4 linked regions of the Homo sapiens genome follow. The protein of the gene in region 2 interacts with the protein of the main gene of each other region in a pairwise test. Each region holds a gene or a part of one and is shown on either strand. Other genes may lie near its edges. The genes, in order: MTURN, RNF41, N4BP3 and HOMER2.

The links.
Region 1: the proteins of RNF41 (region 2) and MTURN interact in binary tests that used the Homo sapiens proteins (3 or more experiments, as listed by UniProt).
Region 3: the proteins of RNF41 (region 2) and N4BP3 interact in binary tests that used the Homo sapiens proteins (3 or more experiments, as listed by UniProt).
Region 4: the proteins of RNF41 (region 2) and HOMER2 interact in binary tests that used the Homo sapiens proteins (3 or more experiments, as listed by UniProt).

The regions. Positions count from the first base shown.
Region 1 is NC_000007.14:30,144,060-30,152,341, forward strand, and holds part of MTURN (maturin), read left to right. Parts: intron 1-2,117; coding exon 2,118-2,240; intron 2,241-8,282. UniProt on the Homo sapiens protein: Promotes megakaryocyte differentiation by enhancing ERK and JNK signaling as well as up-regulating RUNX1 and FLI1 expression. Represses NF-kappa-B transcriptional activity by inhibiting phosphorylation of RELA at 'Ser-536'.
Region 2 is NC_000012.12:56,211,562-56,219,843, forward strand, and holds part of RNF41 (E3 ubiquitin-protein ligase NRDP1), read right to left. Parts: intron 5,053-8,282; 5' UTR 4,868-5,052; intron 2,510-4,867; 5' UTR 2,487-2,509; coding exon 2,397-2,486; intron 1,578-2,396; exon of another isoform or gene 1,435-1,577; intron 1-1,434. UniProt on the Homo sapiens protein: Acts as E3 ubiquitin-protein ligase and regulates the degradation of target proteins. Polyubiquitinates MYD88. Negatively regulates MYD88-dependent production of pro-inflammatory cytokines.
Region 3 is NC_000005.10:178,122,998-178,127,329, forward strand, and holds the end of N4BP3 (NEDD4-binding protein 3), read left to right. Parts: 3' UTR 1-3,084; downstream 3,085-4,332.
Region 4 is NC_000015.10:82,949,323-82,958,037, reverse strand, and holds the start of HOMER2 (homer protein homolog 2), read left to right. Parts: upstream 1-5,317; 5' UTR 5,318-5,502; coding exon 5,503-5,507; intron 5,508-5,515; exon of another isoform or gene 5,516-5,993; coding exon of another isoform or gene 5,994-6,028; intron 6,029-8,715. UniProt on the Homo sapiens protein: Postsynaptic density scaffolding protein. Binds and cross-links cytoplasmic regions of GRM1, GRM5, ITPR1, DNM3, RYR1, RYR2, SHANK1 and SHANK3.

The sequences.
Region 1 (8,282 bases), on a different chromosome or scaffold from region 2:
TTGTGGCAGATGGTAAGCCCACCCCTTCCCCTCTGTCTCCCCCATCCTCCTGCAGATGCAAAGGGGGAAAGAAGGTACTTAAGTCCACCATTTACTGAATATTCACTGCATGTCAGCTAGGCACTGTGCCAGGTACTTACTCAGCTTTTAACTCTGTCATCTTCACAAGTCTACAGAGGACAGGCTTCAAGTTTTTGAAATGTGGTGGTAGATGTTAATCCCCTCTTTAACTTGGATAATAATTTGAAATAAGCTGGAACTTTTACACATTTGAGTATGAAAATGGATGCTGAGCAGAACTTACTAAGTAGAACTTTTGTTGTTCTTCCAGAATCTCCACTGATTAAGAATCAACTGGCATAATGGATATACAAGTACTTTGTACCATTACACTTTTGTACAATGGAAGAGACTATTACATAAATGACATTGTGGTGGTTTGACAGCTTTAAGGGTCTCTAATTAGTAGGGAAGAGCATTTGAGCTGTTCGCTAAAGCTAGAGAGCCCAGACGTTGTCTTTATTGGGTTGGGGAAGCCTCTAGAGAAGTCTGCTGGCATGAGAGCAACGTGTGTCGAAAATGGACCTTTGCAACTATGAAACACAGATAATTGGGGTATAAAGATGGTACATTGGCACCTAGTTATTCTCATTTGGATCTGAGCAGTATTTTAAGTCTGTAGGTCTAGTTCTCAGAAACCCTGCAATGAGAAGAAAGGAGAGGAAATGTGTTTATTGAGTGATAGGGATATGGGGCCAGTGTGTGCTTGGCATGGACCATGTCTCCACATAAGTCTTCTATCCTGCTATCTGGCCGCTGCATCTTGTTCTTATCTGCCAGATGTCTTTCTTTCTCCCAGACCTCAATACTTTTTTTTTTTTTTTTTTTTTTTTGCCAGTGTTTAGCCATCCTGGATCCGTCCCCACTAAAGAGTGATTCTTGGTACCTGACAGATACTCTGATGTTACCCTGGAAGCCCCGTGTCCCTGACTTGCTTAGATATGCAGGGCAGGGTATTCTGCATTAAGAATGCTCAAACCTATTTCTTGGCCTTGTTCCAGGTCTTTGAACATTTATGAGAGAGGCTTGCCTAGTCTTAAAGATGTGCTAAAATGGATATCCTCACATGGAAAAAAGCCTTACCCAGTCTTCAGAAAAAATAAAACCTAGACTGGGCATGGTGGCTCACGCCTGTAGTCCCAGCAATTTGGGAGGCTGAGGCAGGTGGATCGAGACCAGCCTGGGCAACATGGCGAAACCCTGTCTCTACCAAAAATACAAAGAATTAGTCAGGTGTGGTGGTGCGCACCTGTAGTTCCACCTACTTGGGTGGCCAAGATGGGAGGGTCACTTGAATCTGGCAGGAAGAGGTTGCAGTGAGTTAAGATCATGCCACTGCACTCCAGCCTGGGCAACAGAGCAAAACCCTGTCTGAAAAAGAAAAAGAAAAAGAAACAAAAAATCTAAAACCGATCTCCTCTTAGTATGTGTTAGATTGTGAAATGATGCTTCGGTATGATGTCCTTTTAAAGCATTTTAGGGAAGGGAAGTTTTCAGAAAGCCTTTGTTTTCCAGTGACATAGTGGTGACTTGGTGGGTTCTCTTAAGTTATTTGCATTTGGAAGTAAATTTACCACCACGCCTACTCACAGGCCGATCTGGGTAAAGAATGTCTTGTTCCAAGTTAATGCTTACAAACTATGCTTAATTAATCTTTCAGCCGTAGCTGAAAGCAAAGTTAAGGATTTTGAAGGCAAAGGCTCTGGTTTCTCCTTCCCCATGTCTGAAAACCGCCCTTAGCCTGCACAAGGTGAACAGTGGAAATCATTGGTGAGGAATGGCCACCCACTGCCCTCTTTACTGTGTAGGAGCAGATCTGATGATGAACAGAGCAGGTGAGGTATGGACCAAAAGCTCGGGGGCTTCTATAGATTAGACATTTTTTCTTCCCTTTCAACGCAAACAAATCAAGAACGCATGTATGAATTTTACTGTAGAATGGAGGCCTTCTTCAAATTGATGTTATTAAGAAAATCTGCTTGGCTTTTCTGAACTTCACACTGAGTGTAGTGACTGTGTGTCTTTGTTTTCTCCTTCCGTCGCCCGTGGGCACGCAGCACGTGTGGAGTGAGAGCGAGGACTGCCTGCCTTTCTTGCAGCTAGCACAGGATTACATCTCCTCCTGCGGCAAGAAGACGCTCCACGAAGTCCTGGAAAAAGTCTTCAAGTCTTTCAGACCTGTAGGTGCCTGCTTGGCTTCTCACCACAGCTTGTTTTCTATGGTGATTGTGTTTAGAATAACAGGGGCGGTGGGGAAGGTGGGCAAAACCTGGGATGACTAATTGTTTTTCTCTTGTCTGTCCTGTGGCTTAGAGATAGCAGCCAGTATAGGGAGGCCGAGGGCGGGAGGAGGGGGACGGGATGTGACACAGCTGTTTGCTGCAGGGATGATGGTTATTTCTAGCATCACTTGAGTTGAGAATCCCTGATGGGGGGGGAAGCAAACAGATCCTTTATGAGACAACTGAGTGTTCCTGTTCTCCTCTAGGAGACTTGGAACCATGGCACTTGCAAGCCCAATGGAGGTTCTTTTATAATAGTGGGGCGTATATTTGGGGATTGCTGGGAAGCTGTATACAGGTTATATTAATACCTCCACGTTTGTGGGTATGGAAAAGGATGAAACTGGATACTGGCTCTATTCTTTTCTATTTTTAAAAAGTCTCTGTTATGAGCTACTGTTGCTTTGTTTTCCCCTTTTGGGATTTAGGAATGTGTATTTCTGTGGCTAGCTGACAGTCTGTTTTCATTCTAGCTGATAAACCTTTAAAATGAATGCTCACTTCTATTTTGAAGATTACCTACTTCCCTTTATCTTCATTGGAAGATAAAGTCCCATCACCAGTGTCTCAGTGTTTCCCCTAAGTTCGATTCCCTGCCCACTGTAAATACTGCACATGTTCAGTGGTATTTGCTAGAATTTCTATTTATTTTTCAAATCTGTTCTAATGCTGTCTCCTTCTCTGCTGCGTTTTTCAAGCTTGTCTTCTGTTTCTTTGAACATAGTAAGCTTGGTTGCATAGTAGACTATGTCTGATGATATTTCATTTTGTAAGTCTGTTTGGTCTTCTTTTGTTTCTGCTAGTTCTCAAACCTGGTATCTTGTTTCTCTGTGTGTGGGATTATCTTTGTGTGCTAGTTATTGTATTTGAAAGTTTACATGTAGGAATAAAGTGAGGCCTGAGATGACAGTACCTTACTCCAGAGAGGATTTCTGTTTGCTTCCGTCAGGACTTGGGGGCCTATTAGTCTGAGACACCTTAGCACAGTTTAAGTCTTGTGGTTCTCTGATGGCTCCCGGGGGTGAGAAGGCAGGATGCGGGTCTGGCCTCCTGTGCCTCCTCCTCGTTCTGAGGGTGTGGGCCTCTGGGGGCCCAGCTTCAAGTGGGGATGGTGTATAGTCTGCTCCTTTGGAAAACTGTTAGAGTAGCCTGAGAAAGCAGTGAAGTTTCTAGCTGCTGCTTCCAGGTCAGCAAATGCCCCCAGGATAAAAGCAGCTTTTTATGTTTGGCTTACCCTCTCCTGGTTAATATTTTATATTTAAGAAGGTATTTTTCATATTTAATTCAGCTTTTTTTAGTCATTCTCAATGAAAGAGTTGGACCCAGTCACTTTGTGCACCATTGTAAGAAATGAGATTTCAGTGGCTTTTGTCACTCTGATTTGCTTAAGCAAATGACAGAAATCAAATAGAGTGACAAAAACCACTGAAATCCCTTTTTTGTTTGTTAATTTTCTAAGCCAGTTTGGCACATTCAAAATAGATACTTGACTTAAAAGTACCAGTCTGTCCCACATTCATTCATTCAATAAATATGTTTTGGGTACCCACTGGGTACATGGCACTGTGTACTGCATTGTTCCTGGCACTGGAACTAAAGCATGAGAAGCTTAGATCTCACAGAGCCTGTGCTCCAGTGGGGGGAGACAGGATAGACAAGGACACACGTAATGTCGTGAAATGATGCTAGTAATTAAGTGCCAAAGAGAAAGGAAAGAAATCAGGGAATGGGGTAAAAAGTGTCAGGGGTCCTGGAATTTTTGAGTAGGGAACCAGGGAAGGCTTTGCTGAGAAGGTAACATTTGAGGAAAAACTTAGACTACAGAGTGGGCCATGAGAAAATCTAGGGGAATAGCATTTTCAGTAGAGAGAGCAGCAGGTATGAAGGCCTCGGGGTTGGACAACACCTGTGTCCAGGGAGCAGGAGCGGCCAGTGTGGCTGAAGGAATTAGAGAGAGGTGAGCTGGAGGAATTCCAGGAGTCACAGAAGGACATGGGCTCTTACTCTGGAGTGATGGGGAGCCCCCCAAGGGGTTAGGCAGAAGAGGGATGTCACCTGACTTCACATCTTGAAAGCCTCCCTCTGATGACTGTGTTGAGAACAGGCTGTGTTAGGGGAGGGACAGAGAGGCCATTGAGGCCATTGCTGTCATCCAGGTGAGAGATAGTGGTGGCCTGGACTGGGACGGTCACGGCAGAGGCGGGGTGAGGGGTTGGATTCTGGAGATACCTTGAGAGTAGACCCAGCTGGACTTGCTGGTGGATCAGAAGTGGGATGTGGGAAAAAGGGAGAGAAGGCTGACCCTGAGTTTCTTGCCCAAGCAGTGAAGGGAATGGCCTAGTCATTTACTGAGATGGGGAAGGCTGCGGGGGCGGGTGGTGGGGAGTTTGGGGTTGGTAATGTCAGAGCTCAGTTTTGGACATGTCAGTGTTTTAAATGCCTGTTAGACATCGAAGAAGGGAGATCACATTAGGCAAAATTAAAAAGAAATGGATTCCTGTAAATTTTAACCAGAAGAATACCCGTTAGCAACTGAGGTTCGCTTTGCAGCAGGTTTCCTCACAGGGGCTCACTCATTGACCTGCCGCCAGCTGGTCTCTGTGGGTGTCGTCTGTGGTGGCAGGCAGCCTCCCCTCCCTGCAGAACTGGCTCACCTGGGAAGGGGAGCTCCAGCCGGGAGTCACTGTGCTGTTTTTCCTTACCGAGGCTCTGGTTGTATTTTGGCAACCAGGCTAGCCACGTTAAATGAGGAAACAAATGCGGTCCAAAAGAAATCCGGATGTGCAGCTGAAAGCAGTTGGATTGGTTGAGGAAGTTCTTTCAGGTGGCGCTGAGATGTGTCACGTGGGCCCACAGCTTTGGTGTGCTGTTGCTGGGCTTCCAGGTTTCCTTTCTGAAGTGGAACTTTACCTTGTGGGCAGGGATGTGGCTCCCCAGGTGAGGAGGCCTTGACGTGGCACAGCATGCCCTTTGGTGAGGAGGTTTGTGGGCTGGGCCGCCCTCTGGCAGGGCCGGTTTACCCCTGAGGGCAAGGCTGGTGGGAGGCACCTTCCCGGACTGGTAAAGATGAAGTGCTGAAGGCCTCAAGTTTCTCCCAGTCAGGATGCGCCCCAGACTGAATGAGAGGGAGCGTCACAAACCCGAATAAAGGACCACAGAGATCCCTGGAGAAACTTTGACACTCTCCACCTCCACCAAATAGAGCACTGCTTCCCAATGGCACCATTTATCTGTTTGTTTTACGTAAGGGAGGTTTGTTACAGATAAGACATAGGTAGGGGTTTTGTTGCTGTCATCACAGTTGAACGTATTTGTTGAAACGCTTACCCAAATGCTACAGGTTATCAAGTGGGTAAAACCAGCACATCATTTCCCTGAAAATACATGGGAATCTGATCAATCCATGCAGCTGCTTTTTTGTTTATCGTGGGCCAGCCCCAGGAGGAGTGTTTTTACCTTCATCTTAGAGCAGTCCCCTGCTCTGCCTACTGCACTCTACTGGTTCTTGGGAGAGCTATTTCTGTGAGCATGTTCTGCAGGGGGTTGCTTGTCATCTCTTAACCCAATTATGAGGGAACAGGTACTACAGTCATGAAGAACCCAAGGTCTGTTGTCAGGCTACCCGGATTTAAGTCTCAGTTCTACCACTTGCTGGCTGTGTGACCTTAGACAAGTTACTTAACCTCTCTGTTTCTCAGTTCATTTGTAAAATTAGAAAATTAATGATGATAGTTCCCTTAGGGTTGCAGTGAAGATTAATGGAGTTTTTGTTGGGTACTCAGTGCAGTGCGTTATCCACGGTAGGCACTAAGTCAATGTTAGTATGATGTGGATAGGATGAGGATACTAGACAAAATACTGTGGAGAAGTGAGCAGGTTACCGTTGGGGGGAACCTTAGATTATTGGTGGAGAGAGAAAACAATTTGCTAAGTGATTTCAACATGAAAAGGCATTAGAAGGGTAAGTCAAAAGTTTATCAACATTGGTTTTGGTAAAATTACAAGCATTCACTGAGTACCTGATCCACACGACTCACTGTGCTAGAGGCTAGGACTCCATAGAGGACCAGTGGATGCACCTGTCCTCCCAGAGGGGCACGTGGCCAAAGCGCTCAGGGTTATGGATGATTTTTTATTTTCTTCTTTTCCACATTTTCTAAGTTTTCTATGATCACATTATCAGAAAATATATTTTTTAATGAAACTGTGGCTTCCAGCGTATTCGAAGGGCTAGGAGTATCAGTGTGAGCAGGCTCATTGAGGAACAAAGCCAGGCAGTGGCTTCATGAGGAGGTGGGACTGAAGAATAGCCGGACCTAGACGTGCTCAGAGCAGGGGCAGGGCTGGCCCAGGAGGAAGTCCAGGAAGCGTCCATCTTGGCTGCCTCAGCTCCGTTTCCTTAGAAATGGCTCCATGTGGTGGAAGGTAGATCGGCTCTGCCCTGTTTTGCTCCCATGCTGTGTGGCCTCTAACAGGTACACTTGGCCTCAGTGTCCCCAGCTTTAAAATGGGGGCAATACTGATTTAGCTGTCTTGTGGATTCATGGGGAACTTTGAAGTCAGACTGAGAACCCAAAGGATTGTCAAAACCCAGACACTCTGCTAAATTTAGTCTCAGTTTCTGGCTCCTAACAGGTATTAGGAAATGTTTATTGGATGGGTAAATGACTGTGGATGCAGCCGGCCACCTTCCCTCGAGTGACCCACATTCTACTCCACTCCAGTGACCTCCTACTTGCTAATGTTGATTGCTCAGAGAGGTATGATTTTTACCTATTTTTTCTTGCTACTGGCATGTCGTATCCAAATGGCACATGTATGCACATGACAATGCCAGGCAGGCTGTTGTTGGCATCCACGAGCAGGTACTGCTACTTGTAGTGGTTTCAGAAACCCCCATCAATCACTTTGGTAAGTGTGAGTTGGATAATCGTCAGAACCTTGCATTTTTCTTAAGTGACCCTCCATTGACAGTTGCTGGTCATACACGATTGAGCTGGAGAATGAAACAATGGTTACGGACCTAAATAATGGTGATCATGCCGTTCAGTTTTCCCCACCATCTTTTCATGTTTTATATTTAGTGTCAACTGACAGACTTACTGCTGGGTAGAAAACAGTTTACAAGAGAAGAAATAGCCTACTATTTCCAATTTAGCAGTGAAACTAGACTTTATCTTTGCCCTTTCGAATTCTCTCAAAGTGTTATGGGCTTAACAAGGAACTATTGCTTCCTCGAGTGTGTTCTTCTCCTTACCAACGCTGTGGACATTAGGGTCCTGAGTCCCCTATTGCTCTTGCAGTTTTTTGTGCTGTTTGGTTGTTGTTGCTTCCATGGCCCGGCCTGGAGTTGGGTCCTGTGGTCCTTGTAGATTCTCACTCAGTTGGCCCAAGTCCTCTCCTGGGCTTGCTGTGTGACTCTGCGTTTCTTCTCTCAAGAAAGAGACATTTCTGCCAGAAAAATCCCCCTAATTCTGGTTCACTGGCATAAGCAAGATTGATATTTTCAGTTTGCCACAAGTGGCTGGAGAGCTGCGGCTTAAATCCCACAGGAAAATCCTGTGTCCCAGAAAAAGTCCAATTCTTGCCTCTACTCATGGAGTCTGGTCAAGAGCCTGGAAAAGAGAAAGAATCCACCTGTCAGAAGCTGCCTGGGTGGATCAGGGAAAGTCTGATGAGAAAAGATTATGCACACATGTGGGTTTCATAATAAACATGGAATATTGACAGTTTATCTTTTTTTTCTTTTTTCCTTTTTTTTTTTCTCATTCATGTTATGAACATTCAAACCATTCTCTTTTTTAGAGAGTATGATGGCCTCAAAAGGTAAGAGAGTGCCTCCTCCTGCCCATTGTGCTGCATCCATCTTGCCACCCTTTTTTCCTTAGGGTCAAGAAGACTGACTGACAGACCAGGACCCCACCAGGGGTTTCCCCATAC
Region 2 (8,282 bases):
CTAGCTCAATCACGGCAGGTATTTATGAAGAGGACAGAATTTGATATGGGTCTTGAAGGATAATTCAGATGATAGATTTAGAGAGGAGGAGGACATATTTACTGGCAAAAATTCAATGTAAGAAAGCTAGGCCAGGCATGGTGGATGGCGCCTGTAATCCCAGCACTTTGGGAGGCTGAGGTGGGCGGATAATGAGGTCAGGAGATTGAGACCATCCTGGCTAACATAGCGAAACCCTGTCTCTACTAAAAATACAAAAAATTAGCCGGGCGTGGTGGCGGGTGCCTGTAGTCTCAGCTATTTAGGAGGCTGAGGCAGAAGAATGGCGTGAACCTGGGAGGCAGAGCTTGCAGTGAGCCAAGATCATGCCACTGCACTCCAGCCTAGGCTAAAGTGTGAGACTCCATCTCAAAAAAACAAAACAAAACAAAGCTAAATAAGGCCGGGCATGGTGGCTCATGCCTGTAATCCCAGCACTTTGGGAGGCCAAGGCAGGCAGATCACTTGAGATCAGTTCAAGACCAGACTGGCCAACATGGTGAAACACAGATATATTCATATATACATATGTATACACAAATACATATATATGCAGACATCTATTCATATTTGCTTATATCTGCCTTAAGACACACTGGAAGGATACCAAATAAACTAATAAAAATAGTTATCTGTGGGGGAATTAGGTGCACAGTAATAAAGACAGAAGTGAGAATTCTCACTGTATACCTTTTGATTTCTGAACTATGTTCATTTTTCACCTATTCAAAAAATAAATAATTATGATGTGGGGAAATCAGCATCCCTAGCAGGAGCCTTCTAACCTTAGAAATGTGTCTGGGAACCTGGCATCATGAGGGTTGCCTGCTCTGCTCCTCAGAAGATAAAGCCTGGAGGTAGATGGGTGGCTTCTGACTAGACTGTCACCAACTACGACTCACCTTTCCATAAGTGACTTGCCTAAAATGATAGTGCCAGAAAACAGACAAGGCCCTGCCAGGGTGAGGAGGGAACCTGACACACCCTGTGACCTCTTGACACTACTACTTGATGACTTGCTCCACACCCATCTAATATGCCTCTAATGGCAGCAGACTGCAAAGGCCTAGAAAGAAGACAGGTCCAGAGTTGGTTGCCATTGGAATGCAGTCTGAATTTTATTCAGCTCAAGGCATCAGTACTCCTTTTGGAGTAGTACTGGGAGAAAAAATAAAGGCTCAAGGGGAGCCCCTGGGAGTTAGGTGAGCAGTGAATGGGGGAAGGGCCATGAAACCTCATTGCCTAGTGTCCTGGTTTGGAAAATGTGATAATCTCTAGATAGCCAGGAAAGAGAAAGGATTAATTGGTATTTACAGAATGAGGGCAATAAGGATCCTGGAGGATGCTGTCCCATGAATACAACTCTTAAGGATTCACCTCACTCATTGTACTTGCCTGGTAATCGTGAGCTTCTCCTCATACTTGCCCCAGGATGATACAACTGACTCTGGTCTGGCAAGGCTGGCAGAGAAATGACCTATTGAAGGTGGCAGCTTTCACATCAAAATGCAGAGTGCATGGCTGTATCAAAAGCTGGTCTTTTCAGTAGATCCCAGGAAAAAAATAGGTCAGTACATACAGTTCCCCACTTCCTATTTGTTTTTGTTTTTTTTTTTTTGAGATGGAGTCTCACTCTGTCACCCAGGCTGGAGTGCAGTGGCACAATCTCGGCTCACTGCAACCTCCTACTCCCGGGTTCAAGCAATTCTCCTGTCTAGCCTCCTGAGTAGCTGGGACTACAGGTGTGTGCCACCACGCCCAGCTAATTTTTGTATTTTTAGTAGAGACGGGGTTTCACCATGTTGGCCAGGATGGCTCTTGAACTCGTGATCCACCCACCTTGGCCTCCCAAAGTGCTGGGATTACAGGTGTGAGCCACTGTGCCCAGCCTTCCTATTTGTTAGACAGTAGGCAGGTAGAAGAGGCCTGCAGGGAGCCTGGCTGATTACCTGAAGCACTACATCATAAAAATGCAGAGAGAACTTATTAGGAGAGTCCAGAAGTTCAATCACGGACAGGAAGATGGAACCTAGTAAGAGTTCCTGTAGAGGAAAGGAAGCTACCCAGCTACTATCACAAGACAGAAACAAGCAGCTGACTGTTTTACAGGAGAAATCTTTCAGAGTGACCTCAGAAAAAAATCTGAACCACTGGATCTCTGTGGCATCCACCTCTAGATTGATTCTGGAAGGCCTTATTCTTGTAGTCACCATTACTCCTTTGACCTAAATCTCTATTGGGTGAGGGTGGAGAGAAGAACACAGTGACTTCACCATGGGTCCCGCTGCCCATGAATATTTTCTACTAGTTCCACTGCTACCTGTTGCCCCACCAAACCTGCCATCAGACCAACTCACCTGTACTGGCTCCTCCAAGACTCCACTGCAAATAGGGCAGATAAGATCTTCGTCAACATCCCCCTGGAAACGGGTTACATCATACCCCATGTCTCATCACTGAAACCCAGGTCCTGAAAGGACAACAGGAAAAAGAGGCCAGTTCAGAAGAAGCCTACAAATATGTGACAAACATACACTCATTGCCAAGATCCATTCATTTATCCAACAAATATTTACTGGGAGTCTACTATGCAGCAGTCATTTGGCTCGGTGGAAGCTGACTCAAGAAATTTAATTCTGGCCAGGTGCAGTGGATCACGCCTGTAATCCCAACACTTTGGGAGGCCGAGGCAGGCGGATCACCTGAGGTCAGGAGTTCAAGACCAGCCTGGCCAACATGGTGAAACCCTGTCTCTACTAAAAATACAAAAATTAGCTGGGTGTGGTATGCGCATCTGTAATCCCAGCTACTCGGGAGGCTGAGGCAGGAGAAGCATTTGAACCCAGGAGGCAGAGGTTGCAGTGAGCCGAGATCGCGCCACTGCACTCCAGCCTGGGGAACACAGCGAGCCTCAGTCTCTAAAAAAAAAAAAAAAATTAATTCTAAGGCCTGGCACAGTGGCTCACGCCTGTAATCCCAGCACTTTGGGAGGCCGGGACAGGCAGATGAGCTGAGGTCAGGAGTTCAAGACCAGCCTGGCCAACATGATGAAAACCCAGCTCTACTAAAAATACAAAAATTAGCTGGGCGTGGTGATGCACATCTGTAATCCCAGCTACTTGGAAGGCTGAGGCACAAGAATCACTTGAACCCAGGAGGCAGAGGCTGCAGTGAGCCGAGATTGCACCACAGCTCTCTAGCCTAGGCAACAGAGTAAGACTCTGCCTTAAAAAAAAAAGAAAAAAAGAAATGTAATTCTAATGGGGGAAGACATTATATAAGCACACATTTAAAATATAAAGTGATAAATACTCAGAGTAGAGACAGGACCTTATGAGGACAAGAGACATGAATACCTAACCCAGGCTGAAAGCAGAGGGTGGTTTTGACAAGTTTTCCAGGACTGGGCGTCACCAGAAACGTGTCCTGTAGGGCAAGAGTCAGCTAAATGTTGGGGGAGCAGGGCATTAGGGTGTTATGCACATAAAATAGCACATCCAAATGCCCAGAAGAGGGCATATGATAGGTTCAGAGAATTTCAAGTGATTCAAGAAAAGGCTGACCTGAGAGGTGGGAGGGAGGGCCTGTCAAGAGACAAGGCTGGAGAGGCAAGCAAGGGCCATGCTGTGAAAAGTCTGTGAGGATTTTGGACTTTATTCTGAAGGGTATGAGAGAGCCACTGAAGGACTTAAAAAACAATGTGATAATAGTTCCATTTTAGAATCAGTATGTTAACAGGGGAGAAACTGGAGACCGGAAGAACATCTAAGTCAGGAGAGTGACGGTAAGAGTCTGAACTTAGGTGGTGGTGGTGATGGGGATAAAGAAGAGAAGAGAGGGCCGGGCATGGTGGCTCATGCCTGTAATCCCAGCACTTTGGGAGGCTGAGGCAGACGGATCATGAGGTCAAGAGATCAACACCATCCTGGCCAACATGGCGAAACCCCGTCTCTACTAAAAATACAAAAATTAGCCAGGCGTGGTGGTGCGCACCTGTAGTCCCAGCTACTCGGGAGGCTGAGGCAGGAGAATCGCTTGAACCCAGGAGGCGGAGGTTGCAGTGAGCCGAGATTGCACCACTGTATTCTAGCCCAGTGACAGAGCACGACTCTGTCTCAAAAAAAAAAAAAAAAAAAAAGAGAGGTCCAAAAGAGCAAGGACTCAAACAGCGGCAATGGCGCCATGCCCCTTCTTTGGGCTCCCAAAGGTCAAACCCAAAGAAGAGGTCAGTAAACAACTGGCTGGGCGCAGTGGCTCACGCCTGTAATCCTAGCACTTTGGGAGGCCGAGGTGGGTGGATCACCTGAGGTCAGGAGTTCAAGACCAGCCTGGCCAACATGGTGAAACCCCATCTCTACTAAAAATACAAAAATTAGCTGGGCATGGTGGTGGGCACCTGTAATCCTAGCTACTTGGGAGGGTGAGGCAGGAGAACTGCTTGAACCCAGGAGGTGAAGGTTGCAGTGAGCTGAGATCATGCCACTGCACTCCAGCCTAGGCGACAGAGCAAGACTCTGTCTCAAAAAAAAAAAAGAAGAAACACATAATCCTTGTCCTCAAACTAAGGTGTAGGCTTGAGCCCAATGAGTACATAGGAAAAAAAACACATAAAAACACATAAACGTATTAAGCAAATTATTAACAAGTAAAAGTCAATAATTTATGTAAGTTGTAAATATACAAAAAAGAACAAATGGTACAGATTAATCACAGAAAGCTTTCTGCAGAAAGAAGTTTTAAGAACTGGACTTTCAAGGGCAGAAGGAATCCCGAGCGACAGAGAAGAGGGTTGAGGCCTGGAATGGGATTCTGAATCAAAGCTCTTTACCTTCCAAGTGTTGGGGGGCAGGTTCCCTGTTCACAAGGCTCCAACCCCCTGATGCCTCCACTCAGTGCCACTGAAGAGATTCTCCCAGTAACCCATCTTGTTGGCTATTCTCCGACTGAGTATTCCTTCCCAGTGACAAGCTCCATCGCCCAGGGGATGAATGTGATGTCACAATCAGGAGTACTCTAGTAATAGGAACAAGGAAGAGAAAGGAGAGTCAGGAGAACTACCTCCACTTGGCAAGGAGACTGGACAGATGGATCTGGCAGTTGGTTGGGGAGGATGAGACAACTCCATTAAGCACTACAGTTTTCAGTGCTAGGCAAATAAGACTACCTTCTAAGGAGGGAGCTCACCAGCTAAGGAAGCACACACACGGGGTCCAGTAGATTTGAACATAGCTGGGAGGGGGAAAGAAAAGGACAAGAGAGGCCGGGCGTGGTGGCTCACGCCTGTAATCCCAGCTCTTAGGGAGGCCAAGGCGGGTGGATCACGAGGTCAGGAGATCAAGACCGTCCTGGCTAACACGGTGAAACCCCGTCTCTACTAAAAATACAAAAAATTAGCTGGGCGAGGTGGCAGGCGCCTGTAGTCCCAGCTACTCGGGAGGCTGAGGCAGGAGAATGGCGTGAACCTAGGAGCTGCAGCTTGCAGTGAGCCGAGACCGCGCCACCGCACTCCAGCCTGGGCGACACAGCAAGACTCCGTCTTAAAAAAAAAAAAAAAAAAGACAAGAGGAAAAGTAGAGGAGTTGTTGGAGATTTAAGATTCTTTTATTCAGTGCACATAACTACCAGTAATAATGATTCCAAATCTGTGACTACAAAATGCATAGATCCAGGTTGCGATGGCTCACGCCTGTGATCCCAGCACTTTGGGAGGCCGAGGCGGGTGGATCACCTGAGGTCAGGAGTCGGAGATGAGCCTGGCCAACATGGCGAAACCCCATCTCTACTAAAAATATAAAAATTAGCCGGGTATGGTGGCAGATGCCTGTAATCCCAGCTACTCAGGAGGCTGAGGCAGGGAGAATTGCTTGAACCCAGGAGGCGGAGGTTGCAGTGAGCCAAGATCGCGCCACTGCACTCCAGCCTAGGCGACAGAGCAAGACTCTGACTCAAAAAAAAAGCAAAATGCATAGATCCATAATACATTATGTGTACAGGATGATGCTTTAATGCAGAGGTCCCCAAATCCCCAGATGGACCAGTACCAGACTGTGGCCTATCAGGAACCGGGTCGTACAGCAGGAGGTGAGCAGGAAACAAGCGAGCATTAAGGCCTGTGCTCCATGTCCTGTCAGATCAGCAGCGGCATTTGATTCTCATTGGAGCATGAACCCTATTGTGAACTGCCCATGCGAGGGATCTAGGTTGCCCACTCCCTATGAGAATCTAATGCCTGATGATCTGAGGTGGTAGAGTTCCATCACAAAACCATCCCCTCGCCCACCATCTGTGGAAAAACTATCTTCCACAAAAAGGCTGGGGATGCTGCTTTAATGTTTCCAAAGTGCTTTCACATAAATTATTATTATTATTTCGAGATAGAGTCTCGCTCTGTCACCTAGGCTAGAGTGCAATGGCGCGATCTTGGCTCACTGAAGCCTTGGCCTCCCGAGTTCAAGTGATTCTCCTACCTCAGCCTCCAGAGTAGCTAGGATTACAGGCACCCACCACCATGCCCGGCTAATTTTTGTATTTTTAGTAGAGACGGGGTTTCACCATGTTGGCCAGGCTGGTCTCGAACTCCTGACCTCAGGTGATCCACCCGCCTCAGCCTCCCAAAATGCTGGGATTACAAGTGTGAGCCACCGCGCCTGGCCCACATAAATTATTATTATTTTTTTGAGATAGGGTCTTGCTCTATTGCCCAGGCTGGAGTACAGTGGCATGATCATAGCTCACTACAGCCTCGCCTTCCCAGCAGGCTCCAGCAATCCTCCCACCTCAGTCTCCCAAATAGCTGGGACCACAGGCACACACCACCATGCCTGGCTAATTTTTGTATTTTTGGTAGAGATGGGGTTTTGCCATGTTGCCCAGGCTGGTCTTGAACTCCTGGGCAGGCTCCAGCAATCCTCCCACCTCAGCCTCCCGAAGTGCTGGGATTACAGGCACCAGCCACTGCGCCCACCCCCAAATCTACACATTTAAACAAGTCAAGTAACCCTGCTGTAGTTTTTCTGTTGCTTCAACTGTCAAGTAGGGAAAATGATACCTGCCTTATATATTAATATAAGGTATATATAATATATACATATTTATTATATATATATATGTTATTTTTTTTTTGAGACAAAGTGTTGCTCTGTCGCCAGGCTGGAGTACAGTGGCACGATCTTGGCTCACTGCAACCTCTGCCTCCCGGGTTCAAGCGATTCTCCTGCCTCATCCTCCCAAGTAGCTGGGACTACAGGCATGTGCCACCATGCTGAGCTAATTTTTGTATTTTTAGTAGAGACGGGGTTTCACCATGTTGGCCAGGATGGTCTCAATCTCCTGACCTTGTGATCCGCCCGCCTCGGCCTCCCAAAGTGCTGGGATTATAGGCGTGAGCCACCATGCTTGGCCTATTTTTCTTTTTTTTTTTGAGATGGAGTCTTCCTCTGTCGCTCAGGATGGAGTGCAGTGATGCAATCTCCTCAGCTCACTCCAACCTCCACTTCCCAGGTTCAAACAATTCTCCTGCCTCAGCCTCCTGAGTAGCTGGGATCACAGGCATGTGTCACCATGCCAGGCTAATTTTTATTTTATTTATTTATTTATTTATTTTTTTTTTGAGACGGAGTCTGGCTCTGTCACCCAGGCTGGAGTGCAGTGATGCGATCTCGGCTCACTACAAGTTCCGCCTCCCAGGTTCACACCATTCTCCTGCCCCAGCCTCCCAAGTAGCTGGGACTACAGGCGCCCGCCAGGACGCCCAGCTAATTTTTTTTTTTTATTTTTAGTAGAGACAGGGTTTCACCACGTTAGCCAGGATGATCTTGATCTCCTGACCTCGTGATCTGCCTGCCTCGGCCTCCCAAAGTGCTGGGATTACAGGCGTGAGCCACCGCGCCCAGCCAATTTTTATATTTTAGTAGAGACAGGGTTTCAACATGTTGGCCAGGCTGGTCTCAAACTGGCCTCATATGATCCACCACCTTTGGCCTCCCAAAGTGCTGGGATTACAGGCGTGAGCCACTGCGCCCGGCGTAATATAAGGTGTATATATGTGTGTGTGTGTATATATGTGTATATACACGCGCGCACCCCTTATACATACTGTCTGCAAATCAAATGAAATAATAAATACGAAAGGAGGCTGGACGCAGTGGCTCACACCCGTAATCCCAGCACTTTGGGAGGCCGAAGTGAGTGGATCACCTGAGTCCAAGAGTTTGAGACCAGCCTGGGCAACATAGTGAAACCTT
Region 3 (4,332 bases), on a different chromosome or scaffold from region 2:
GATTTGCATTCTGGAAAGCTCTCCCAGGAGGAAGCATTCCCCACCCCACCTTGCCTCTGTCCTGCGCTGGGCTCCAGGACGGTCAGTCCTCCCGGATCCCTGCTCTCAGCTAAGGCTGGTCCCTAAAACCCACACCTGCCTTTGGTCTCTCAGAGGCCTGGCTTGCCCTCTGGGCCTTTGCTCCCCCGCTGGGTGCCCGGCCTGGAACACAGGTTCTGTCTGGCTGTGTGAGTGGCGTCTCTCCCTTCCTTTGAGGGAAGCTCAGCTTTCTTACGCGCTCATCGTTGGACGGGCTGCCATGCATTGCGTGCTTACTGGGCGCCAGGTGCTGTGCTGGGCCCTTGTGAGTGTGGGGGCACAGGCTGAATTAGATGAGCTCCTGCCGCAGGGGGCCCTGCACACTGATGTCAGCTCACCAGTCTCTTCCCTGACAGGGCAGCTCAGGGAACTTCTGAGAAGTTATCTGCAGAGAGCCCCACCTCACTCCCTTTGGCTACCCTGGCCGTGCCTGGCAGCCCCTCAGGCCCCACAGGTGGGTCCTGGTTGTGAAGTGGAGTTAGTGCACATGGATGTCAGGGGACGGGTGTGAGGCATGAGCTGGGGGGGCCCCCTTTTTCAGGGCAGAGAATGAGGCGTGTGCACTGTCTGCTGTGGGGATGGTGTGTTTATGGCCATGTAAGTGGCAGGTGTGTGTAAAGATGTGCTTGTGGGTGGTGGGTGTGTCTGAGGGGGTGTGTTTGGGAGCCTGGCCTCCAAAAGCCAGTGTCTGGGTTGGAGACAGTGCAGGCCCCTTCTTGGCCCCACCCTCTACCCCATTCCTTCCTGTCAGCCCCAGTCTGTCTTGGCACTGGCCAGGCTTGGGTGGAGCCTGTGTCCCAGACAGATCCCCTAGGCCTATCTGAGACCCATACAGGCCCACACCTGAGCTCCTGTCTGCCTGAGGAGGGAAAGGGGGAGTGGCCAGGTCAGGCAGGCCAGTCGTCTACACACCCCCTTGGTACCCATTCCCATTTCACAAACTCCTCCAAACCCCAAACCCCAAACGGAAATCTCTGGGACAATGGCTCCTCCAGAGGGCCCCTCAGAGCCAGGTGCTGGCCAGATGCCTTGATCACAGCCTCCATGGCCAGGGGCCTGTCAAGCCAGGGGCCCACACACCTGGTGCCAGGGTCCACCTTGGTATACCAGCTCGGCAGAACAGTTCCCCACCCAGCGATTAGGGAGCTGGGCTGGCCAGTACAGCCAGTGGGGAGTGGGTGGGAGGCACCAAAACTTGGCAGCTGTGCCAGAAACCAAAGCCAGGCCCAGATGTAGGGGGAGGGCACGAGAGCTGAACCTGAGCCTGGGGCGTCTCGGAGCTGGATCCCCGTCAGCTCATCCAGGCTGGACAAACCAGTTCCTGGGTCCCCCAGCCGGCTGGGTGGCTCTGGGGCCAACCGACCACAGGTGTCACTGATCACAGGTGTCACCGTAGTGGCTACCACCTCAGGGCAGCCCCTCCCTCCAGCTGGCGGGGCCTCAGCTTCCCAGCTGCCCTGGCTTAGCCTTCCCTGCAGCCCCTCCCCAACAGGCTTGGTCCGGGCAGCCTGCTCTGCGGAAGGTGGCAGCCTCCTGGTGCTGGGCTCCCTGCCTCTGGGGCCTCCAGTCCTTCACTCAGTGTCATCCCTTCCAGCAGCTCCCTGGGCCTCTTGGTCCATCCCTTCAGGCTTCTGACACACTAGTGGCCTCGAGTCACTGATAGTGGTGCCTCCTCCTTACCTTGGCAAGCCCTTGTAGCCCTCTGAGCCCTCATCCTGCAGGCAGAGCCCCTCAGTGCTCTGAGAAACCTGCCCTGAACTCACCGCCTCCCCTGCCTGGGCACTCCCTCCTCCCTGCGCCCACAGCCCCCATGCCAATCTCCGTCAGCTCTTTCTGTGCTGCTGTAATTGTTGGTTTGCCTGTCTCCTTTGAGCTGTGGGCATTGCCGGGGTAGGGTGGTGTCTTCACCACAGCTCCAGAAGGCACTGGTGGGATGTGGAGTCAGGAGCAACCAGAGACCCCCCAATACTAGAATGGGTTTGAGCTTGGGGTGGGGTGGATGGGGAAGACTTACTCTGAATGTTCGTTCACCATCCGTGGGCACCAGGTCTGTGCCAAGCACAGGGACTCCAGGGGCAGCTGCCATTCGTTCCAGTGATGTATTTGGGGCCTTCTCAGGTGAGGAAGCCAAGGTGGCCAAGGCCCTCGGTCCCCTGCCCTGATAGGGCTTACCTGTGGGTGGGGGAGGGAGACCACACATGTCAGAGGTAGTGAAGGCCGCTCCAAATAGTGACTGGGGCCAGGCAGGCGGAAAAGAGAACAGAAGAGAATCCAGAAGTGTTCAGACAGAACTAGGGACAACAGAGGGGCCTCCATGGTGGCATGGGTCAGCAGAGCATGGAGCAGGCAGAGGAAGCCTATCTGTGGGGCTGGGTACATTTCTCTGAGACTCACGGAATGTAAGTGTTGAGGTTTCTGCAAAGAGGGCGCAGGCCCTGCAGTGACGGTTCAGATATTGATAACCCATCCCCCTTGGCAGGTGGGGGCTTAGGCATCCATATTGGATTCAGAAAAGAAAAAGAATGATGCTTCTTGCAACAAAAACAAAAGTGATTATGTCACGAGAGGAGAGGCTGGAGGGCCATGGGAGTTCCCAGCTGGCTCACTCATCCGTCCAGGAGGTGGGTCTCATGGTTTCATTTTGCTTTGGGCTTACTTAGAGTTTTGGCAAATGCAGAGTTATGTAACGAACCCAACAATGAAGATACAGTTCTGTCACCCCCCCAGCATTCTCCTGTGGCCCTCTAGTCCACCCCCCGCCCCACCCCAGCCCCTGGCAACCACTGATCTGCTTTCACAATAACCGTATGGGGTTTTTTCTCTTTCCTTTTTTGTGAGCGGTATTTAATTCCTTTGCTCTAATATGTAATATTAGAACATATTACAAAGTAGCAAGAAAAATACGACATTGGTGTAAAAATAATCTACACCTCATGGAAAGAATGAAGAGCCAGAAATAGATTCTATTCTGTAGAAAATCTTACACAATAAAGGACTTCAAAATAAGGGTAAGGAAGGATGCTTTAACAAGCGGTGCTGGGATAACTGGATAAAAATTTGGGAAAAAAGTCATACTATGTGCCACCCCTGCATTTATTTTATTATTTTATTTTATTTATTTTTTTGAGATGGAGTCTCACTGTGTTGCCCAGGAGTGCAGTGGCGTGACCTCAGCTCACTGCAACCTCCGCCTCCCGAGTTCAAGCAGTTCTTCTGCCTCAGCCTCCTGAGTAGCTGAGACTACAGGCGCCTGCCACGACGCCTGGCTAATTTTTTGTATTTTTAGTACAGACAGGATTTCACCATGTTAGCCAGGATGGTCTCGATCTCCTAACCTCGTGATCCACCCGCCTCAGCCTCCCAAAGTGCTCGGATTATGGGCGTGGGCCACGGCGCTTGGCCCACCCCTGCATTTATTGAGTTAAATTTTAAAAATCCTATCCTAGGAAATTGGTGGTGGGGCTCAGAAAATGATACCCCAAAGTATGAAGCTGTGGGAGGCTGAATGCTTTGAACTAAAGTATCTGACCATCGCTCACTCCTTTTCCCTCCCAAAACCCTCCTGAAGCGCAGGGAGGGGCCTTCTCTGATGTTCTCTTTTGTTTCTAAGGGAAGTTCCTGCAGAAGGAATGCCATTGTCTTGAGCCCTTTCCCTAGCATCTCATAAAACATGGACAATTAACTCACAGGAAAGGATACTGAAGGTGATACCATCTCTTCTGAGGACTGGGCTGCTTGAGAGGTTTTATCTGCATGACAAGACAGCCTTTGTTTGCCATGCATTTCCTCCCCTCAACCTCCTAGCGTCTGCTGCCACCTCCTCCCAGAAACCTCAGGCCCCAGTTTTTGGAGCTCAAATGCTATTTAGACTTCATCAGTCTGGCCCTTACTAGAGTCTCACATTTTGTGGGACTCCTGTGCATGTATGTAATAAATTTGCATGCCTTTTCTCCTATTAATCTGTCTACTGTCAATTTTATTCCAGAGACTCAAATTATTGAAGCTTCGGAGAATACAGGGAATGTTTAAAACTTCTACGCTGGCAAAAAGTTAATTCAATTATTACTGAATTAATGGGAGAATTGATTGCTTTGAAGGAATCCTCCCCATCCCTAACAAAAATCAAAAACAATCCCTATGGGGAAAGATGGACAAAGTCAACTATTTAATACAACTTGGTGCACACTTGAAAATAATACCAAGATGCAAGGATGGCCACATACTGGGGGAGAACCTCAACTTTGCTCACATCCT
Region 4 (8,715 bases), on a different chromosome or scaffold from region 2:
GTGAAACCCCGTCTCTACTAAAAATACAAAAAAGTAGCCGGGCATGGTGGCGCATGCCTCTAATCCGAGCTACTTGGGAGGCTGAGGCAGAAGAATCGCTTGAACCCGGGAGGCAGAGGTTGCAGTGAGTGGAGGTCGCGCCACTGCACTCCAGCCTGGGTGACAGTGTGAGACTCCGTCTTAAATAAATAAATAAAGAAAAATGGGTAGATGCTATCAAAATCTCTGGAGGCATCCAGGACACATAGACTTAGGAGAGCCCTGGATGGGAGAGGCAGAGGACAGATGGGACTGTTGGAAATCGTTTATAGCTCACCTTCCTAAGGGCAGGCCCTTGGCCTGATTGGAAACAGCAGGGGCTAGGGCTGGTGGTCCCATACTGATCTGGTGTCATCTTAAAGAGACAGCCCATAGTCTTCTCTGATCCTTAGGTGCCCTGTAGAGGGGTCCTGAATCTATGGAGGGCTCTGGATACAGATTGGCAAAGTGTTATCTGGCAGGAAGTACACAAGCTGTTTCCATGGTGGGGGCAGATTGAGAATCCTCAAACTGTACTAAATTTTAAAATGTTGATTATATAAGAACCATTTTGACAATATTAATTCAGTCACAATAAATGAAAATTTCACCCTAGTTCCACCATTATAGCCAGTAATAATAATAATAATACCTGTAATGTATTGAAGATGTACTATACTAGGGACTGAGCTAAGCACTTTACAGATATGATCTCATTCACTCTGTTTTTTTTTTTTTTTGAGACGGAGTCTCACTTCTGTTGCCCGTGCTAGAGTGCAGTGACACAGTATCTTGGCTCACTGCAACCTCTGCCTCCTGGGTTCAAGTGATTCTCCTGCCTCAGCCTCCCGAGTAGCTGGGATTACAGGCATGTGCCACCATGCCCAGCTAATTTTTATATTTTCAGTAGAGACAGGGTTTCACCATGTTGGTCAGGCTGGTCTTGAACTCCTGACCTCAGGTGATCTACCCGGCTCAGCCTCCCAAAGTGCTAGGATTACAGGTGTGTGCCACCACACCTGTTCTCATTCACTCTTCTTAATAGTCCAAAGAGATATCGCCACTTCGTAGATTAGAGCGCTGAGGCTCAGAGAAGTTAAAAACTTGCCCGTGGTCACAGATAGTCAATGGTAGATCCAGGACTTAATGCAGGTCTGAGTCTAATACTGATGCCTTTACCCTATATTCCTTCTGCCATCCTAATAAACTTTTTCATTTTCTATACTCCAGGCCTTGTCCATATTTTCTAATTTTACATAATTATACTCATAGCACAGCTGTAATTCAGATTATTTTACAAACTTAACTTTATATCCTAATACACATCCCATCCACCAAGTCTTATTGAGTCTACCTCTAAAATATCTATAATCTGTAATCCACTTCCCTTCATCTCCACCCTTATCTTTTGTCTAGAGCCTCTTAACCAGTCTCCATGTTTTACTCTTGTCCCCTTCTTATCCCCTCTTCTCCCAGGAGTGAGTGATATTTTAACAATATAAACCAGATCACGGCATTCCCCAACCCATCAGTGGGTTCTCACTGCATTTGAATAAATTGCAAATCCTTAATCCAGCCAAAGGGCCCTGCATACTTCACCCATGCTTTGCTAAGCTCACTGCACTCTAACCACACTGGCCTTCTCCCAGCTCTTCAGAACAGCATGATTCTCTACCACCTCAGGGCCGTTGCAGTTTCCTCTGCTTGGAACCCTCCCCTCATGCTCCCCATGACTGATGCTTCTTTGTCTTCAAGCCTCTTCTTTTTTTTTTTTTTTTTTGAGATGGAGTCTCAATCTGTCACCCAGGCTGGAGTGCAGTGATGCAATCTCAGCTCACTGCAACCTCTGCCTCCTGAGTTCAAGTGATTCTCCTGCCTCAGCCTCCTAATTAGCTGGGATTACAGGCATGTACCACCATGCCTGGCTAGGTTTTGTATTTTTAGTAAAGATGGGGTTTTGCCATGTTGGCCAGGCTGGTCTTGAACTCCTGGCCTCAAGTGATCTGCCTGCCTTGGCCTCCCAAAGTGCTGGGACTACAGTCATGAGCCACCACACCCAGCCATCAGGCCTCTTTTTAAATGTCTCTTCAACAGGCCATTCCTGACCATCCTCCTCAACCTAAATTAGGTCTCCTATTCACACAGATCGTAGCTTATATATTTGTGTGATTATTTGATTAATACCATTCACACAATCTTATAGTCCTATGACAGAAGGACGTCTGTTTTGCTGAGCACTTTATGCCCAACACAGTACCAGATACACAGCAGGTGATCAACATTTATTGAAAGAATAAATATATTTCTATGTTACTATATAGGCTTCACAAATATAATGTAATAGCTGCATAATACCCGACAGTTATCCCTTTAATTAATGGCTTTAATAATACATTTGTTTCATATGCAGTTGAAAGAACTGACCTTTTATGGTTAGAAAAAAAAATGTTTGAAGTCCCTGGACCAGCCATACCAGAAATCTGAGCACACTAATAACAACATTATGCATGTACATGGTGAGCCTAATTTTGCTGTTGAAAGTAAAAATACAGGCCGGGCATGGTGGCTCACGCCTATAATCCCAGCACTTTGGGAGGCCGAGGCAGGCGGATCACAAGGTCTGGAGATCGAGACCATCCTAGCTAACATGGTGAAACCCCATCTCTACTAAAACTACAAAAAAGTAGCCAGGTGTGGTGGCATGCGCTTGTAGCCCCAGCTACTCGGGAGGCTGAGGCAGGAGAATTGCATGAACCCAGGAGGCAGAAGTTGCAGTGAGCCAAGATTGCGCCACTGCACTCCAGCCTGGGCAACAGAGTGAGACTCCGTCTCAAAAAAAAAAAAAAAAGAAAAAGAAAAAGAAAGTAAAAATACGTAGATTATAGGTTTTGAAATCAATTTAGTAGGTTATGAGCAGTACTGCTTTTAAAAATAGAACAGAATGGGCCGGGCACGGTGGCACACGCCTGTAATCCCAGCACTTTGGGAGGCTGAGGTGGGCCGATCACGAGGTCAAGAGATGGAGACCATCCTGGCCAACATGGTGAAATCCTGTCTCTACTAAAAATACAAAAATTAGCTGGGGTGGTGGTGCGCGCCTGTAGTCCCAGCTACTTGGGAGGCTGAGGCAGGAGAATCGCTTGAACCTGGGAGGCGGAGGTTGTGGTGCCCTGAGATCATGCCACTGCACTCCAGCCTGGTGACAGAGCAACACTCTGTCTCAACAACAACAACAACAAAACAGAATGATGTCTGAATGCCTGCCTGGCAAGTGAGAGGATAAACATTGTTTTATATAACTTTTTGTTTCTATTTTATATCGATATACCTATAGACATAGTATGTATGTGCTGAAGTATGTACCAGGTTGCAGGTTGTAGTGTAAAATATATTTCTTACTGTGGATTGTAGTTTAAAAAAATGAAAAACTCGGCCAGGCACGGTGGCTCATGCCTGTAGTCCCAGCCCTTTGGGAGGCCGAGGCGGGTGGATCACGAGGTCAGGAGATCGAAACATGGTGAAACCCTGTCTCTACTAAAAATACAAAAAAAAAAAAAAACTGGGCGTGGTGGCATGCGCCTGCAGTCGCAGCTACTGGGGAGGCTGAGGCAGTAGAATCGCTTGAATCTGGGAGGTGGGGGTTGCAGTGAGCCGAGATCACGCCACTGCCACTGCACTCTAGCCTGGGTGAGCAGAGTGAGACTCCGTCTCAAAAAAAAAATAATAAAAATAAAATAAAAATGAAAAACTCTGATTTCAGTGGCTTGCCTTTGAAGTTATTCGAACACTTCAGAATCCTCAGGTATTACCTGATAAATGACTTGTTCAGTGTTCTACAAGCTCACTTTCCTGATATTGCTGATTACTATGCATGGAGGATTTGGAAACTCCCAAGATTATTTTATTTTTTACAAACTTATTTTGTATTTATTTATTTATTTTTTTGAGACAGTCTGGCTCTTTTCACCAGGCTAGAGTGCAGTGGCATGATCTCGGCTCGCTGCAACCCCTGCCTCCTGGGTTCAAGCGATTCTCCTGCATCAAGCCTCCCGAGTAGCTGGGAGTAGCTGGGACTACAGGAGCACGCCACCACACCCGGCTATTTATGTATTTAATTAATTAATTTATTTATTTTTTGAGACGGAGTCTCGCTCTGTTGCCCAGGCTGGAGTGCAGTGGTGCGATCTCGGCTCACTACAAGATCCGCCTTCCAGGTTCACGCGATTCTTGTGCGTCAGCCTCCGGAGTAGCTGGGACTACAGGCGCCTGTCTCCACGCCCGGCTAATTTTTTTTGTGTGTGTGTATTTTTAGTAGAGACGGGGTTTCACCGTGTTAGCCAGGATGGCCTCGATCTCCAGACCTCGTGATTCGCCCGCCTCGGCCTCCCAAAGTGCTGGGATTACAGGCGTGAGCCACCGCGCCCGACCTGTCCCTTGACTTTTTTACTGTCCTGAGATGCCAGGCTTATGTGGGCGGTGTGTTCCCAGCAGAAGATGATCCCGTGGAAGTCCCGGGGGATGAAGGTTAGGTTAGTCCCAGTGCCAGCCTTTGGTAGAAACTCAGGACCTGATAGGTAGAAAGGCGACGAAGAGAGCCTGCTCTTCTTCAAGTTCTACTTTTGCCATCCTAATTCCCCTCGCTCTAAGGATAAAACCAAGCTTGATGAAGCCGCCTTAAAACTGCCCCTTCAAGTGGGAGCCCTCATCTCATTTTTATCCAGGAAAGAGCCCAGAGCATCTGCCGCGGCCTGTAGGCTCTTCTCTGCCAGGCTGGCTTCCGAAATTTCACGGTGGCGGGTACCTTAAGGCCACTCGGCCGGGCAACTGGCAGGAAGATGAAGGTGGGCTTTAAGGAGGAGCACAGCTATGCCCATCTCAGACTCTGGAGACCCGAACGAACTCTAATCTGAATGTGTGACCTTGGGCAAATCACTTACCCTCCCCAGGCCTCGGTTCCCTTATCTGCAAAGTAAAGGTAGCCCTAAAGTCCCCGCCAGGTGTGAATGGGACTTTAAGTCCATCAGGCAGGATGTTGATGGCACTGCGCCAGGGCCCCGGGTCGGCGTGGGGCGGGGGCGCGCCAACGCGGGGCCGGCACCGAGGACTGGGTGGCCCGGGAGAAAAGCGGCGACTGCGCGGCTGCGCGGGGGACGGTGCACACAGTGCTGCGCCCCCCGCCTCTTGGCTCGCTGCCGCGGCCCGGGGGCCACGAGGTTACGTAAGGAGCCGGGCGGGGGTAGCGGCTGGGGAGGGCGGGGCGGGCACCGCCCCAGCGCGGCCGCCCAGCCCCCGCCCGCCCGCGCCTGGCGGCGGTGGCGGCAGTGGCAGCAGTGGCAGCCGCGCAGCCCCGCGGAATGGAGCGGCGCCGGGGCTGAGCCGGGCGCGCACGGGCCGCCGCATGTGCCGCGCGGGGAGCGGCTGCCGAGCGGGCGGAGAGCGAGCGCGAGAGGCCCCGTCGGAGCGGCCGCCGGAGCAGCGCCGGAGATGGGGTGAGTGAGCCCGCGCCGCGCGCTCTCCGCGCGCCCCTCCGGAGGGACTGCGGGGCCGCGGCTGGCGTAACCGGGCTCGGAGCCTCCCGGCGGGCCGGCCCCCGCCTCCCCAAGCCGGAGCGAGCGCACACTCTGCGCCCGGGAGTCTGGGGCCACCTGACCCGCGCCCTCCGCCGGGGCACGCGGACACCCAGCAGGGGCACCCTGGCCTGGGCGCGGAGCCCGTGGCCCTTCCCCTCCCATACAGCCCGGGCACGGGGGCACCTGACGGGGACCGGTGCCCTGGCCGGCCTCCTGCCTCGGCCATTCCGCGGTCTCTTCGCCCCTGGGCGCAGTCAACTCCAGGGCCTGTGTGAGTCTAAGCAGTTTGTCGTTCTCCACGTTTGGATTTATTACAAGCAAAATGGAAATCGAAGTTTTCCTGGAAATAATCAAATAATAATAAACCTCCAGCGTAGGAATAGTGGACTTTGGATCTGCTTTGAGATGCTGAAGATGATGGAAGTCTATAAGGAACCTAGGTGAGGCTTCAGTCTTTGAAACAACTGAGTAGATGCTCAGGAGGGAAGTTGAAATACTCTGTCGAAGTGACTAATGCTTCTGAGTATATAAAGTAATTTAAGCTTTCCCCTCGGCGTCTCTCTGAGCAGTAGGCTCTGTGAGTCTGGGAGCCACTGTGCTAATAGCACAATAACTCCTTACATCTGCTCACTCTATTTGGGCACACGTTGACGGTTTGCCATACGTATTCAGGGGACACTTATGTCCACTTTACAGATGAGGAAACTGAGGCACAAAGTGGTTCGGTGACTTCCCCCAGGCTGTGTAGTTGATGAGCATTTGTGTAGCAGGGGTGGCCTTGCCACTGCCTGACGTGGGCATGGAGGCGGGTAAGTGAACCAGAATTCCTAAATCTCTCTGTTCCCTGCTGCTGAACCCAGCATTCTTCCAACAGCCCTTCGCAGGACTCAAATGCTTCTGCTCCAAGGGTCTAGAGATCTTGCTTTCCTGTTTGGGATGGGTGGGGCCTGGGAAGGCAAGAGTGCAGTGGAAGGAGCAAGATTGTCCTGGTGCCCTGGCTCAGCCCCCCTGGGTCAGTGGCTTTCTTGCACCGTACTCCAGGTTAAGTTTCTGGAGTCATTTTGCCTGGTGAGTCTTAGCCATGGGAGCTGCAGAGTGTGTGAGGGGATCAGAGGCAGGCCAAGAGGAATTTTGAGGAATGGAAGTGTGAGGGCTGTGGGCCAACATGAACTGGACATGACAGAGGTGGGTGACAGAGAGGAGGAGGCGAGATGAGCAGCGAGGGCTGAAGAAGTGTGCTTACATTTAGGAGATTTCACATGAACAGCAACTGTGGGTGATTTTACCCAGAGGCACCCAAGTTGGCAGGCCGTATTTCTGTAACATTTCCAGTGAGTCCTCAGTGGACTGTGAAAAGGCTGATCTTTGAGCAGTGAGAGCCTTTGAGGTTCTCAGATTTCATACTTTAAAAAAATGTACAGGGAAAAAGGAGTTGGCAAATGTAAGGTCTCAGAATGGAAGATAAAAGGGATCCGGTAATTTTAACTCTCTTTCTGGCCCTCCCTCCCCCTGGCCAACACAAAACCAATCCACCGTACTTGTGTGATCAAAAACAAGTACTGAAACTCTGTGGTTGAGATCAAATAGTTCTGTGGAAATGAAAATGTTTACTCACTCATAAAACCTTAAAGAAAATGTCAAAAAATAATTTTTGTTTGTGGAGAAGCAGGGAGGAGACGCTTGGGGATTTTGTTTAAACACAGAATATGTCTTTCATGTAATTTTAACATCATTCGATAAATGTATATATTACTCACTTCTCGTAGATAAAGGCTGGTTTGTAACTCCTACCTACCTCTGCCATTTTTAATAGATCCATGTCTTCTATTATTTATGTGAAAATACAAGCCATGGTCGTAAATTGAGATGCAGCTAAGGGCTGGGGAAGCAATTCAGACAGGAGGGTGGAGGGAGCCGTTTTAACTGAAAATAGAACCAATGTCATCCTTTCTGAGAGTTGTGTAGGATGGAGGGGGAAGAACTTTTTGAAAGGGCAGCTAGTAGAAAACCTTGCTGCGATCCTACAGCTTCGTCATGGCTCTGCTGTGTAGACAGGACTAGGATTTAAGGGAAAAAAAAACAAACTATCTGAGTTTACCTCCCCCCAACTTGAGATGCTTCTCCTCCCTCAAATGTTCACTACCATTTTCCACTTCTCTTCTGCGAAGTGTTCTGTGTTAAGTGTGGCCTCTCCAGTGAGTTTGTGTTCTTACTCCCTAAGGCAACTATTTCATACCTATTCCCCTTTCCAGACCTCTCCCCTTCCTAGGCACACCCCGTGGCTTCCCTTTCAATTGACAAGATAGGCACCTTTGACCAAGGGAATGTCTTCATTTTGCCACCACCTAGTCTAGTATGCAGCTGCTGCTACCTTCTCCTACCTGCCTGCTGTGCTGGATGACCTGTCCCTCATCTCTTCCTACTAGGGGCCCCTTCTTCTGGGGTAGCCTCCATTCCATCCCTTCCTCCTCCCATCTTTTCAGAGATTGTCTCTCCTTCCTAACCACCTTTCTCTCCGGGGTCTTCTCCATCAGTATAGGAGCATACATCTGACCAACAGAACTTTCTGCACTGCTGGAAATGTTCTGTATCTGCGTGGCAGCCACCAGCACATGTGGTTATTGGACACTTGAAATGTGGTTGTTGAGACTGAGGACCTGAATTTTTAACTTAATCTAAATTTAAATAGCCACATGTAGCTAGTGGCCACCATATTGGATAGCATAGCTTTAGTTGCTCTCATCTTAAAAAGGAGATCTCCCTCCCTCCTACATCCCTCTCCTGTTTCACTTCTTTGCTCTTCTTCACCTGAAAACACCTCAGAAGATACATCCAAACCCACTGGCTCCATTCACTTTCTCCTGCCATTTGTTCACTCTCCATACTCTACAGTCTTGCTTCTGCCTCACCTCTGCACCAAAACTGCCAGGGTCTTGGGTGACCAGGGGGTTGCCAGATCTCAGCCTCACCTCACTTCACCTCTCTCAGCAGCATTCCTAACAAATGACCACTCCCTCTCCTCAAAACAACACCCCTCTCAGCTCCTCTGGCCCCACTGTTTCCTGCTTTTCTTCTTACTCCTAATCATGGGGTTGCCCAGGGACTGGTCCTGGTTCCTTTTCTCTGT